Homo sapiens: one gene and its partner. The protein of the gene in region 1 interacts with the protein of each later gene in a pairwise test. Each region holds a gene or a part of one and is shown on either strand. Other genes may lie near its edges.

Region 1 (7,159 bases):
GAGAGAGGGCGCTGAGGTCTCCAGCAGGTCAAGACAATCTTGCAGAGCAGGGAAAGCTGGTGGCGGGCCCAGAGGAGGGCAGAACTTAGGTGAGGTGAAAAGGAAGGGGAATGTTCCCCTAGATTTAAGTGAACATAAAGCATCGGAGTGTACCAGCTTGTTGGGGGTTGAATATGACCTTGACAGCTGGGGTGAGCCTATGCATGGGTGTACAAAACAAGAAGTATGGTTATTAAGGGAATGGTGCAGTTTTGAAAGAGCCATGGGGGAGTGGTGTTGTGTGCAGGACAATTTTTCAGGCCAATTAATGTTTTAGGACAATTTATCTCACAATAGAGGGTAGGCAAGATTTCTGGAAGAGAAAGATGGGAGAGAAAGAAAAAGAGACACAAGTGCCATTATATTAGGAAATAAAGCTAGGACTCTAGTAGAAAGAGTTAGATGCCAAAGATGTATAAATATATAAAAGACAAAAAAATTTAGGACTTGGTGAATAAATGTAGAGGGAGAAGGAAAGGGAATATTTGAGAATGATTCTTCATTAATTGATTAATGTACGCAATCCCAGAGGAAAATGGGAGACACTAAATTGAGTTACACTAATATATGTCAGGTAGCAAGGAGTCACTAAGGTGCTGATGTTCAGATGGCAACTAGAAAGATGAGGATGTTGCACAGGACTGACACTAGCTCTGTGGATATCGAGCCGTCACCAATGTATTGGCCAAGGGGATGAGTGCATGATTTGGTAACTCCAGGAGATACTATATGATGACAGCAGGGGAACAAAGTCTTATTTCTACATTTGGATGATCGCAGCAGGGAACCAAAGATGAAAGATAATAGACTGACCAGAAAAGTGGAAGGAAAAAAAGTTCAATGCAGCGTCACAGAACCAAATAGAAGAGTTTCAACAGCAATAATCGCAGAAAATATTTATGGTTTCTATTATATGTCAAGTACTGTTAAAAACTTTACATATATTATTTTGTTTCATTTTGTCCTCACAATAATTCTATGAAGTTAAGATTAAGTGGTTAAAAAGTACAAAAAGCAAGTATAGAATATGTGATTGTTGAAAAAGCAAAAGTCATACAATTGTAGAAGTCATAGAAGTTAACATTTATTGTTTGCTATGTGCTACCCATTGGGCTAAGTAGTTTACATTCTGTCCTATGAGGTAACTATTATTATCATCATTTTTAAAAGAGAAAAGGGAGACTTAGAAAAGTTCAGTAACTTCAAGGTGTATGAGACTAAGCTGCGATTAGGCAAATAATCAAGGATCCCCATTTTATTTTGTATTTGTTAATAGCTGTGAGTTTTACTTTAAAAAAGGCTTTTAAGTTACATAAACATGCCCCAAATAATTAATTCATGAATATATATCCTACTGTGCAAGGAAGACTGATTTCATAACTGAAAAATTTCAAGAGGTATTAGATGTTTTCCTTCTGATTGCACAGGTAGTACATAGTTGCTATGGGTATTAAAGTCTGCTCCATATGTTTTTTATGTGTTCTAGCAGCTTTTATTCTTTTCAAGAGCAGTATTCTACATAGTCTGGTGTCAGTTGTAAAATTTCTTATTGGTGTCATGATTTCTTCTTACTGCATGCTACACAGCATTCTTTTCACAAATTCAAATTTTACTTAATGCTATTTTGAGAAGCACAATCAGGAGTCAAGAGCTGCAATTATGTGCTAGTTTTGATTTATAGCTTTCTTTCAGCATACAAGAGAAGAATAACAATAGTGGAACTCACACAATTTCAGTGTAAACCCCAAACATGAACAAGTAGAGTATTTCATTGTAGTGACCTCTAATTTGTAAATTATAACAGTTAAAATAATTTTAAAAAGGAGAGTATGGCAGGAGTCCTGAAGAGATAAAATTCATAGATGCTACATTTCTTTGGAAGATATTTTACAGATTCTGGCAAGATCCTGTGTAGTACTGTTCTGCTGAGGAATAGCCTGCTGAGCTGCTAATGGTAATAATGTGAGATGTTTGACAACAGAGGAGTGGAGTTAAGAGTGGTTTTGACCTGCCCATTGAATGGAGTTAGCTAGTGTATTTTTATGTTTCTTTTTCTAAACTTCTAAATTAATGTAATTTTTATAAAAATCATTTGATTCTCTTCTTGGAGCCAGATATTGAATTCAAAAAAGGTGGTTAGACTTACTCTTGATAATTTTGCAAACCTACTTTTCTTCATTGCTGATTTTGGGATTTGCCTTATATTATTTCCTTTGGAATAATGATATGTGTATCAACGTTTATCTTGATTTTGAAACAGTTTAGGAGAACCATACTTCAAGTGTGTTATTTAAAACACATTGCCTCTTGTTTTCAGTCCTTACTGGTACCTTGATTAATTTTTACTACATACAATGTATCATCCTTCCAAAGCTGATTTCAAATTTAAATTTTATTTAATGCCATTTTGGTATTAATGCTATTTGATTTCTTATGGATAACATAAGAATGGTCAACCTCATAATGAGGGAAACCTTTGAAGTTAGACTTTTTGAATCCTTGATTTTCTTCACCGTGATATTATTATGAATTTCAGAAATTAAAACTTTTTTTTTTTGGTGGGGGTCTGAATTTCAACCAGAAATACAGTCTTCCTGCTCCAACCTTCCAATGCCTGTGTTTATAGGTTTCAGGTCCTGACAGTGTGTCAGGCCATTATGTTTAAAATGGAGGTAGGCCAGCCATAAAGGGACTTTTAAAGGTGTTCACCCACACATGTTTCAGAGATTTAATAACAAATACATAGCAGAGCTCTATAAAAAGTTTTATTATTTTATATATTCAGATAGTTTTTTGGATGCTGTATCCCTAGGCCTTTTGACTTTTGCCTTTTATAATACTAATAGCCTATCCTAAAGATTATCATTTCTGATTTATACTCTGCCTAGTAAACTATATCTGTGCTTATCATTCTAACAAAAAGTATGCTATGTGTGTATTCCAACCAACATTTACTGAACACCTGTTTATACCGAGAACTGTGCAAAATTGCACAAATGTTTTCACCTGAGTCATCTCTTTGATGACTCTCTGGTGCTGCCCTCAGTCCTCCCCCAAACATGGCCAATGAGATAATGAGAATAGCATGAGATAGGGACAGTTAACTGATCCTCAGAATTATAAATCAGCGACATATCCAGGACCATATGGCTAATGAGGTGCTGGGCAGAGATTGCATCTTGAAGTCTTCTGACACCATGCCCTGTGCTTGATTAATGCTAGGATTCTAAACAAGATTCTGTTCCAAACTGCTGATTTTACAGGTGAAGAAATGAGGTCCTGAAATGGTAAGAAATTGCCTGAAGTGCTAATGTTAATTATTCTTTCCTTTCTGAACTACTATGCTTTCTCCTAGCACATCCAAGTGTTTTTAGAAGTAAAAATAGACCTACTTCCTCATATATCTTCACTGTATCATACTGCCTTCCTAACGAACTCATCATTTCCACTAAATGGGAATGATTTCGACTCCTAATCCACTCCCCTCCCCATCCTGCCTCTTCCCTGAGGTCCAGATCTCTTTCTCTAGCTATTCCTGAAATCTCTCCTGAGTGTGTCCGGGGAAAAAACTTAAAATGCAAAGTGTACAAAAATTGAAATTGTTAACATCTTCCATAAAATTTCTCACTCCTCTTAAAGTGCTGAGATTTCTAGGGATTCCCTTTTTAGAATAATTATCTGATATTTCTCTTAGCTCTGACTGCATTACCTCCTTCACTTCATTGAACTTAGAGTCTATAAGCTTTTAATTCCAGAATTTTCAGTTTTGGGCTCTCCCCTGAGTTTAGGATCCATTTGTTTCAGAAGCTTGCTTGATATACCTCTCTGGGTATACTACATGTTTCTCAAATACAATAAGTTCTATTCAAAACTTTGTATTCCCAGCCATTTCCAACAGTATCCTATTTTTGCATTATTGATATTGATTAAAAATTTTACTATGTATTCAGGCTCTGAAGCTAAAATATGTGTCATTTTTTACTCTTCCCTAATTTCAGTCCTCACATTGTCACAGTATAACAAGATTGTCTAAAATGCCACTCAAATTTGGCTTCTTATTTTTGTTCTTAGTTCCGTTGCCTCCATTGAAGCAGTGTCTTAATCTCCAACCAGTGTCTTTCTACTCTAGTCAAGTCACTTTCACAGTAATATAAAGAGCATTTATTGGGTTACTGGAACGTTTCAGGAACTAACCTGCTAAGGTGAAAAGCAGAAAACAAAACAAAACAAAACACAACAAAAAAAGATCCAACCCTTGAATTAGGATGGTTTGTATTATTGTAGGTAAATTTCCATGACTTTTCCCACTTTTATTTATATTTATCTCCTTCTCTTTCTATCCCTACCACCTTTCCTTTTCTTTATGATACAAACTCAATACAAGTAATTTGAATTGAGTAACTTTTATTGATAGCTGTCATGTACAGTGTTTTCATTTATTGATGAGACTCACTCAAATCTCATTCTCAGTTTTTTCAAATACGAAGATATGAAATGTCAATATTACTGAAGGCATTCTTGAACCACTTAAAACGTGTGATGCCTAGTTTTGGGTTAGTTGAATGAGATTTTAGAAAATCAAAAGAAGGCCTGGAGGTAAACTAAATGATGATAAAATATGAAAAAGCGTTTCCATTTGTTTGGGCAGAATACATGTTAAATTCGATTATGTTCTTGGAGTACATATAAATTAAACCTCTTCCTAAAATAGGTTTTTAAACAAAATTATTTCCTTAAGATTCTGAAGGTATTTTAAAGTGAATTTTTAGTGTGCTAGAAAATATTTTATAGCTTTTTGGAAAAGTGGTTGTCAGACCTAATTTAGTACTTTTCTGTCGCCGATAGGTACACACTGGTGGATATTTTGCGTGCCATCTTACTTTCTTTAGAAGCCATGATTGAAGATCCTGAGCTTCAAGTGAATGGGTTTGTTTTGATCATAGACTGGAGTAACTTCACTTTCAAGCAAGCCTCTAAACTCACACCAAGTATGCTGCGATTAGCTATTGAAGGCCTGCAGGTAGGATATGGAAATTACCTACTTCCTTGGTCTCTTGTGTTTGACTTCTCTTGTCTAATGTGTTAGAATGAAAAAATGTCTTACTTACAGAATAACAAAAACAAAAAAAATCTGTAGTTTTTGAGCACAAACATTAAAATACTAACTGAAGAAAGGATTATAGAAGAAACGCTGAAGGAAGAGAGTTTGTGACACTAGTACAGTGCTCCCTGTCTAAACAAATACAGGTAATGAGCTGAGATTTTTAATCTGAAAATCAGAACAAGCAACATTTTTTAGATTGTAATGATTAGCTATTTAGGCTTGTTTTTGTTTCTTTTTTCTGTGCCTATTAATTAGCTAAATATTTTCTTCATTATTTCATTTAACCTGGTGAATTTGGGATATGATCAGCAATATGTTCAACTGTTGGAAAGTCAATCAATATGTTTTTTGGTCTCTAAGATGCAAAGATCATCTCTCTAAATTTTCTTTAGACTTCATTGGGTTTTTTTGTGAGTGGGAGGGGCTGTCACATGGAATTTATATAGGAATAGTGCTTCTTCCAGTGAGTAATGTTTAACTACTTGGGAATTAGAAGATGGGAAACATATTATTATTTAGTGGTCTGTCATAAACCTGCTATTGTCAAGTTGCTTTTAACTTCCAGGGTGTCCTTCTATTCTCTCTCTTTGCTTTATGCTACTTTGTGTACAATGCTTATGGAATTGATTTTAAACTTCTAAAAATATTTACAAGTTAGTCCTTGAGTGATGTAATTCATTAGACTGGGGCATCAATGTTGAGTAAGCCCAAGTCATCTAGATTTTTACTCATTAGTAATTTCTGACTGCATCTATACACACCTAAATTGATAACTGCTGACCTCTTAAAAGTGGGCAACTTTTCCAGGTGCTGGAAATCTTCGATTTCTGCCTCTGGACTGAATAAGACACACTGATGTTTCTTCTCCATATAGGTTTTTCCTGATGTAGGCTTCCTGACTTGCTCTTGGTGAGACAGCCTTGCTCCTCTCTTATCTTAAACAATGCTTTTTAAAAACCTCCACAGGGACAGTTAATACAGGATGGTAGACAGCATAAGATAATGCATGTTTGGAAATGTGTATATCATATAGAATCAGTCCTAACTCTGCCCTTTTTCCAGCAATGTATATGGTGTTCTTCAGTTTGTGAACAAGATTGGTTACCACCCACTGTGTTACCTAACACAGAATGGTAACCTAGCCTTTTATAATTGTTATCCCTATTTAACCTGTGTCTTCTCTTTGCACTAGAGCTAGGCTAGGCCTTCAGCTCCTGAAGGACTGGAGAACTCATATTTTTCTTTCCCAAGAAATTAAAAAAAAAACACTTCAAGAATAGACTCTTGCTATTTTCCAACCTACTTTATGGAGTTTTTTAATAATACTGTGATAAGTCATTGCAGGAGAACAAACTGACAATTTGGAGATGTTTGGGAGCTTCCTTGTTAGCTGTAACTACTATCAGAAGTTCTTTAAGTGCTACCTGTGAACACCAAGGAACTACACTCAGATGAAACCTCTGTGCTTATGTCTAGTGAAGGAAATAATCCCATTCTCTGCATGGACCTGTAATGGCTGCACATTTGGAGCTGCCTTCTCTCTGTTCCCCAAAAATATCTCAGCCCCTTTCTCCTTTTTCCCAGAACACAAGACAGAGTAAGAAGGGTTGATTCCTCCTAATTCCCAATTAAGACGCCACTTAAGAGAAAAAAGCTCTTCCTGGGAATAGATTTGATGTGTTACTAACCTTTAAACTCATTTTTATTTTAAGTTCAAATTGACTTTTTAATGCTATATAATTACATCTATACCTATGTCTGTGTCTGTATCTGTGTCTGTGTCTACTCTATGTATATCTAAAAACAATGGTAATTCTGAATAAGAATATAGGATTGCTAGAAATGTTCCGTTGTGACATGCATGATCTCATATTTAGTCTCGTACTGAAGTAACACTTTCTGACTTTTTAAATCAAGTCACTGTTTTACTTTGCATTTGCTATGTGACAAATATTGTGTACCACTATATGTTTCATTCAGAATATGAATAAACATTTTTTTCAATATCAAAATAAG
Region 2 (6,018 bases), on another chromosome or scaffold:
TTTACCTGTGAGTCCTGCAGACCCGGGAAAGGTCTTTTTTTCTCCTCCCGGGAGCTCTGTGGCTCCTGTGCTGGCCTGTGAAGGTGGAGTGCCAGGCCGGGTCACGGGGGCATCCAGGACAGATGCCCTGGATGTACCTTCAAGGAACCTTCACGATGCTTTGGGTACAGTGCACAAAGCCCCCGCAGGGCTTCGAGTAGCACCTGGATCTCAAAGTGCAGGTCTCACCTGCCTGCATGAGAATCACCTGGGGCTATTACTGAACTTGCAGATTCTGGGACCCACCTTGGTCTCCTGGAAAAGGAGTTCTCTGGGGCGAGGGGGATCCTGCATTCAGCTAGGCTGCCCAGAGGGTTCCGGCGCAGCCCCAAACTCTGAGCCCCAATCACTGATTTCAATTTGCGACTTCAGTGACCTGACCAATAGCAAAGATGAACCCTCTGGTGACTCCAACCAAACAGTATGAAAACATGTGCAGTTCAGGTCTGATTGCACAGACTCCAACTGACACAGATTCCTCAATGGAAATGCACAGACAGAGACGGCAGAACTGGGTAATCCAAAATGTCTTCCATTTGAAGAAGGCATGATCCCCATTCATTCATAAACATGAATACATTGCCACTTTACCCTTAAGAAGCTCCATTCTAGAACGTGCATTCTAGTAATTGGGGCTGATATTGCCCCCCAAAGGAGTGAAAATTTGTTTTGGCGCTGGTGGGGGGTGGGGGCGGTGGCAAAAATTCTTATTCTTTCTATGTAAAAGCACAAATGTACATATGGTACGGAAGCAGAGGCGTAGTATGTCTGTGGCATTACAATTTCACAGCAGGGGTGCAATTAGGAAAAAACTGTCTAAAAAGTCTCCTTAGGGAGCAATAATAATAATAAAAAAAGAAGATCTGGAAACACTGGTCTGGAAAGAAAGGCAGTCAAATAAATAGTTACAAAGCACTAATGTGACTACTTTAACACAGAGATGTGTGCAGTAAGAGAGAAGTATTTTTGAAGGCCTACTATGTGTGATAATAATAGTCACTATTCATCAAGTACATCAAGGACTTACTCGGTGCAAGCACTTGCTATGTGCTTTGCAGATGGGACTTGACTTTTTTTTTTTTGAGACAGGGTCTCTGTCAGGCTGGAGTGCAGTTGCACGATCTCAGCTCACTGCAACCTCTGATTCCTGGGTTCAAGTGATTCTCATGCCTCGGCCTCCTGAGTAGCAGGGACTACAGGAGCTCGCCACCACGCCCGGCTAATTTTTGTATTTTTAGGAGAGGCGGGGTTTCACCATGTTGGCCAGACTGGTGGGACTTTACTTTTTACAACAAACCTGGGAGTTAGAAACTACTATTCCCATTTTGTAGCTGAGAAAAATGGGCTCAGAGAGGGGAAGTGACTTGTCCAAGGTCACACAGCTGGGAAGTGGCAGAGCAGGGATCTGAACCTGGGTCTGTGAGTCTCCAAAACTCGCATTCTTTCTGCCACACCAGGCCGTCTAGAATATTCCTCCTTGACTTGGGAGTGCAGTCAGACCTCATGGGCCTGCTCAGACATTCTCACAGGTAGTCTCCAGGACACACTTCCTCAACTCTCCACCCACCAAGGAGGGAAGAAGGAGGCTTTTGTGAATCAGGAATAATCAGACTAACGATATTTGTCCTCACCCTTGGTAACCAACTGAATCCTTCCGGGGGCAGGGGGACACAAAGCTCTCCCCTAATGGTCATTCACAAACTCCCCTCAACCTCCCTGAGCAGGGAGTATTATTACTAATAGGAGGAGCACACAGAGGTTAAGTAAGTTACTCAATCACAGAGCAATTAGAATTGGAGACATTTCCCAGACCTTCATTCTTAATTCTTGTTTCTCTTCTTCCTGTCCTTTGATCATATTCTTCTCTTCTCAGCTGCCCCTGGGGAAGATAGGAAGGGGCTTCAGCAGCAAAGATCCCGATTTCCATGATGACTATGGCTCTCTTCAAAACGAAGATTGCGGAGACGATGACCCCCAGAGCAGGCTGGAACAGTGCCGTCTGGAAGGCTACAACAGCCTGGAGGTCACCAACGTGTAAGGAACTGGTGGCTCCACCAGACCCAACGTGAGAGACCCAGGAAGGAAGAGAAGCCAGATGGCCCCAGGTGTCGTTCTCACTGTACATAGCGGCCGCAGGCTGAGGATGTCCCTTGCTCCTGGGCAAAATCCCGATGGACTCTGCGGTTTCAGCTCCACAGCGCCCAGGAGAGAGAAGACACCAGCCCACCTGTCTTGGGTGGGCCATGGACTTTCCTGTTCAGCTGGAGATGGGCCCAGAGGACCTGTCACAGTGTCCGGCCCTGCCTCCATCCAGGATACACAGGCTCCACCTCAGAGTGACCGTCACTGTGGAGCAGCCAAGCAGTCCCTGGAGCCTTAAACGGAGCTGCCAAGGTGGGAGGAGGCCCACAGTTCCCTAAAACACCCTTCCGGCGGGAGCAGGGGGGACCCCAACCCCACACCCCAGCGCCCAGTGCATTGGCAGAGCCGGGTGCAGGAAGTGCTGCCTCTTGCCGAGACGTCGGACAGGGCGGGGGTTGGGGAACTCTCGGCTACAGCATCTTACCCTTGACTGAGAACTTGGGTCCTGACTTGGCTCACTGAATCTCTCTTGGGAGAATGCAAAATCCTTCCACCTGAAAAGCTCTGTGACACATGGGGGTGGACGTATTGAAGAGCTGTTTGCCGATCCACCCAGGAGTGGCTACGCTGAGTGGGGAGCCGGTGAATGATCCGTGCAGGAGTGGGGCTTAGCAGCCACATTTCTAGGAGATGCAGATATCCTATCACCAGAATGAAAGCTATTGGGACAACAGGATCGGGGATGACCGACGGCCCCATATGGTGAATCTCTGGCCTGTGGTTTGGCTTTACTGAGATTCCAAACCCCACTATCTGCACTCCGTGACAGTGGTATGGAGTGTGGCAATGAGTTTGGGGTCTGGGGCAGGGAAATGCTTGACATTGTTAACCCAACAAACCTTTGTTGTGATGTCCCTGTCACCTGAAACATAGGTGACATAGCTCACCAATGTCCTAACCGAGACACAAACTCCACAGAGCAAAATCATTTGGTATTGGTGGGGAGAACCCCAGCCCTTTTCTTGACCTGCCACTGTTATGCTGTGTGGCTTCTTCCCAGTGGCCTCACCTCTCTGTGCCTCGATGTCTTCATCTACGATACTTCTGGTTCCCTCCCAGGGACATCGTGAGGATTAACACTTGCTAATATCTGTAACACAATTTGTAACCTCTCAGGAGACAATGGGAAGTTATGGGGTAGCTAATTTCCCATTTACAACACAGAAATGATATAGAGCTAGTTCGCTCCAACTCTTTAGGTTGAAGCAGTGTGCAAAAGGAAGAAAAGAAATGTTTAATGTTCAGACCTGCCAAGAGCCTCCAACAGGGCTCAAGAAACATATAAATCCCATGAGCACAGCCTTGAAAACCAGTTTGACTCAAGCCTTCGGGCCTCAGTTCATTGACCAGATGACAGCCACGTGATGATTAGGGAAGGACGGATGCATTGCGATTCTGCTTACACATCGGGTTATCAAAGCGAGTCACTTGTTGGAACCATGATGCTCGACCTCCTTCAAGGCCGTTTGCACTGGGGCTTGAGTTTCCAAGATTCACAACAGGTGTCAGCCTCTGAGAACCCTCAAAGCGTGTGTTCTTCAACCTGGCAAATTGTTTCCTCTCATGGGGGAAGCCGAGCTCTGATGAACTTGAGAATTACACCTCTCTCATGCCGAAGACCGTGGTGTTCCCCCTAATGACATAAACGCAGCCTTTCTTGCTGTCTGAGACCAAATGTCTAGTTGGTAGACAGGTGGATGTTTGGCCTCCTAAGGGCACACTTCTGATCCTGGGCCCCAGGTGGTGAATCTCTGGCATGTGGCTTGGCTTTGTTGAGACTCCAAATTCCATTATCTTCATGACATTCGGCCTCATCCATAGGGTCCTGAAGCTGCAGTCCACAGCTCAGAAAGGAGAGGTGAGACCTCCCTCCAACCTGGTGCCACAGGTCTCTCCCAAGCCACATCCAGCCTGGATGACCTGGGACCCCAGAAACTGCCGTTTGGGAGGCAGCAACAGCAACGTGCCCAGGCAGGCAGTTATTCCCACAGAGTGAGCCAGAATTGTAGCAGGGCACTTGAATGCAGAGCTGATGATTTGAAACCAACGTTCACCCAACTTGTCAGAAATGGCACTTACATGGTTCGATCTTGCTGGAGACAAGTGGACAATTGGGGGTCACTGGCAGAGACAGTATTGCCCAAAATGTTCACAGCAGGAGGCCAGCAGGCCTGAGGCAACACGGGCAACCGCGAATGCCTCTTTTGGTTTAAATTATGCCATCACAACCCTCTTTCACCCATGAGGCTCCCCATCCCTGACAGCCAGGTGAGCATTTGGAGCTGGTTTCTCAACATGAGGATGGGTTGGTTGTTAAATTAACAACCTCCACAGTATCAGATTGAGTGAGCTTTGTCTGCTGGAAAAACCTGAAACGTCAACTCTGCTTCAAGGTCGGCAAGAAGAACAGAAGGCGGAGACTTGGCAGAGAGACTCAAGCTGATTGTCACAGGCTACAGAGGGGCCAGCTCCAGAACAGTGACCAGCTACATCCTGTCCAAGCAGCCCGAGTGTGGTCTTGGTCCCTGCAGGGCAATGTGGGCATCTGGACCTGGGGACGATGTGGATGCACTTCTTGGAAAGCTGTTGTAGCTTGTGCCTGTGGGTGGAGAAGGCACCTGCCTGGTAGACTCTCAGCTTTCTGACCCCCAGGAGCCTCTGCGAGGCCCCTTTGTCCTTGGCTGAGCCGGACCTTTCTTTTGGAAATCTGTCTGTCTGTTGGCATCGCTGTTTTCAGACCCCAGGCTGCAGAGGAGGGGAGAAGCCACACAACAATCTGGACCCAATAAAGTGGAGAGAAGGGCGTCTCTACACAGCCCGGCCAGCGTGGAGGGCCCCAGGACAGGGACCCAAAAGCTTGACGTCACTGAACAGGGCTGGGTACTGGCAGAACAGGAAGATTTGGCCAGAGGTGACCTCAGTGTTCCCTCCAGGGGCATCCAGGCCCCTCTGACCTGGGGAGAAGAAGGCCCATGCTCAGGCCCACCTCCCTCTTCCCATCAGAGCCCATGCGTCCTGGGCACCACCACTTCCACTCTGCTTTTCGAGGCTCCGGAGGGCTCTTCCTGCTGTGAAAGGAAAGGAGAAGAAAGCCTGTGGGCAATGGCAACCTCTGAGTCTGGCATTCTTGCCAATGGCTGGCCAGCGAGGAGAATCTCCCGAGCCCTGACACACAAAGGCATTTTGTGGCTGCAGAGGAAATGGGTTGGCTCTGAACAAAGATGCAGTTTCTAGGGCCGTGGCCCCAAATCGCTTCCCCGAGAGTGAATTTTAACACTGTAACAATAAATACTACTGCACAGCACTTTATGGCAGAGGGGGCTTTTTTCTGTGTTTTCTCATTTAGTGTTCCCAGCAGCCTCTTTGTGAGATTTTGAACCCATTTCACAGATGGAGAAGCTGAGATCAGAAAGGTGGAGGGCCTTGCCCAGCTCTGTAAAGCTAAGACATCCCAGGGCAGGGACTCAAACCCAGTCCATCTGCCTCCAAATCCCAGGATCATCCTCACAATTACACACTCTCCCAACCCTCACCCCCCTGCAATGTTGGCAAACCCCCCTCCCCCCACCTCCCAGCATAGGATTTACCTTAGCAGGCAGCATCACTCAAAATGCAATTCAGGTGCACTCGGAGTGTCTGGAAAAGTCCCTGTGGGGGCATTGCCTTCTGCCCTGGGAACTTGCAGTCAGGAGTGGACACCTGACAAGTCCCCTCCCCTTGTGTCATTTGTGTCACTCCGTCACTCCTCCTGGGGGCACTTACATCTTCAGATTACCGGACTGGATTTCTAGTGGTGGGACGCCCCAGCACAGTGCCCTTCAGACCGCCCCATGGCCT

The links.
Region 2: the proteins of CLVS2 (region 1) and KAZN interact in binary tests that used the Homo sapiens proteins (3 or more experiments, as listed by UniProt).

The regions. Positions count from the first base shown.
Region 1 is NC_000006.12:123,006,101-123,013,259, forward strand, and holds part of CLVS2 (clavesin-2), read left to right. Parts: intron 1-4,884; coding exon 4,885-5,059; intron 5,060-7,159. UniProt on the Homo sapiens protein: Required for normal morphology of late endosomes and/or lysosomes in neurons. Binds phosphatidylinositol 3,5-bisphosphate (PtdIns(3,5)P2).
Region 2 is NC_000001.11:15,112,559-15,118,576, forward strand, and holds the end of KAZN (kazrin), read left to right. Parts: coding exon of another isoform or gene 1-466; exon of another isoform or gene 467-1,912; coding exon 1,913-2,077; 3' UTR 2,078-5,485; downstream 5,486-6,018. UniProt on the Homo sapiens protein: Component of the cornified envelope of keratinocytes. May be involved in the interplay between adherens junctions and desmosomes. The function in the nucleus is not known.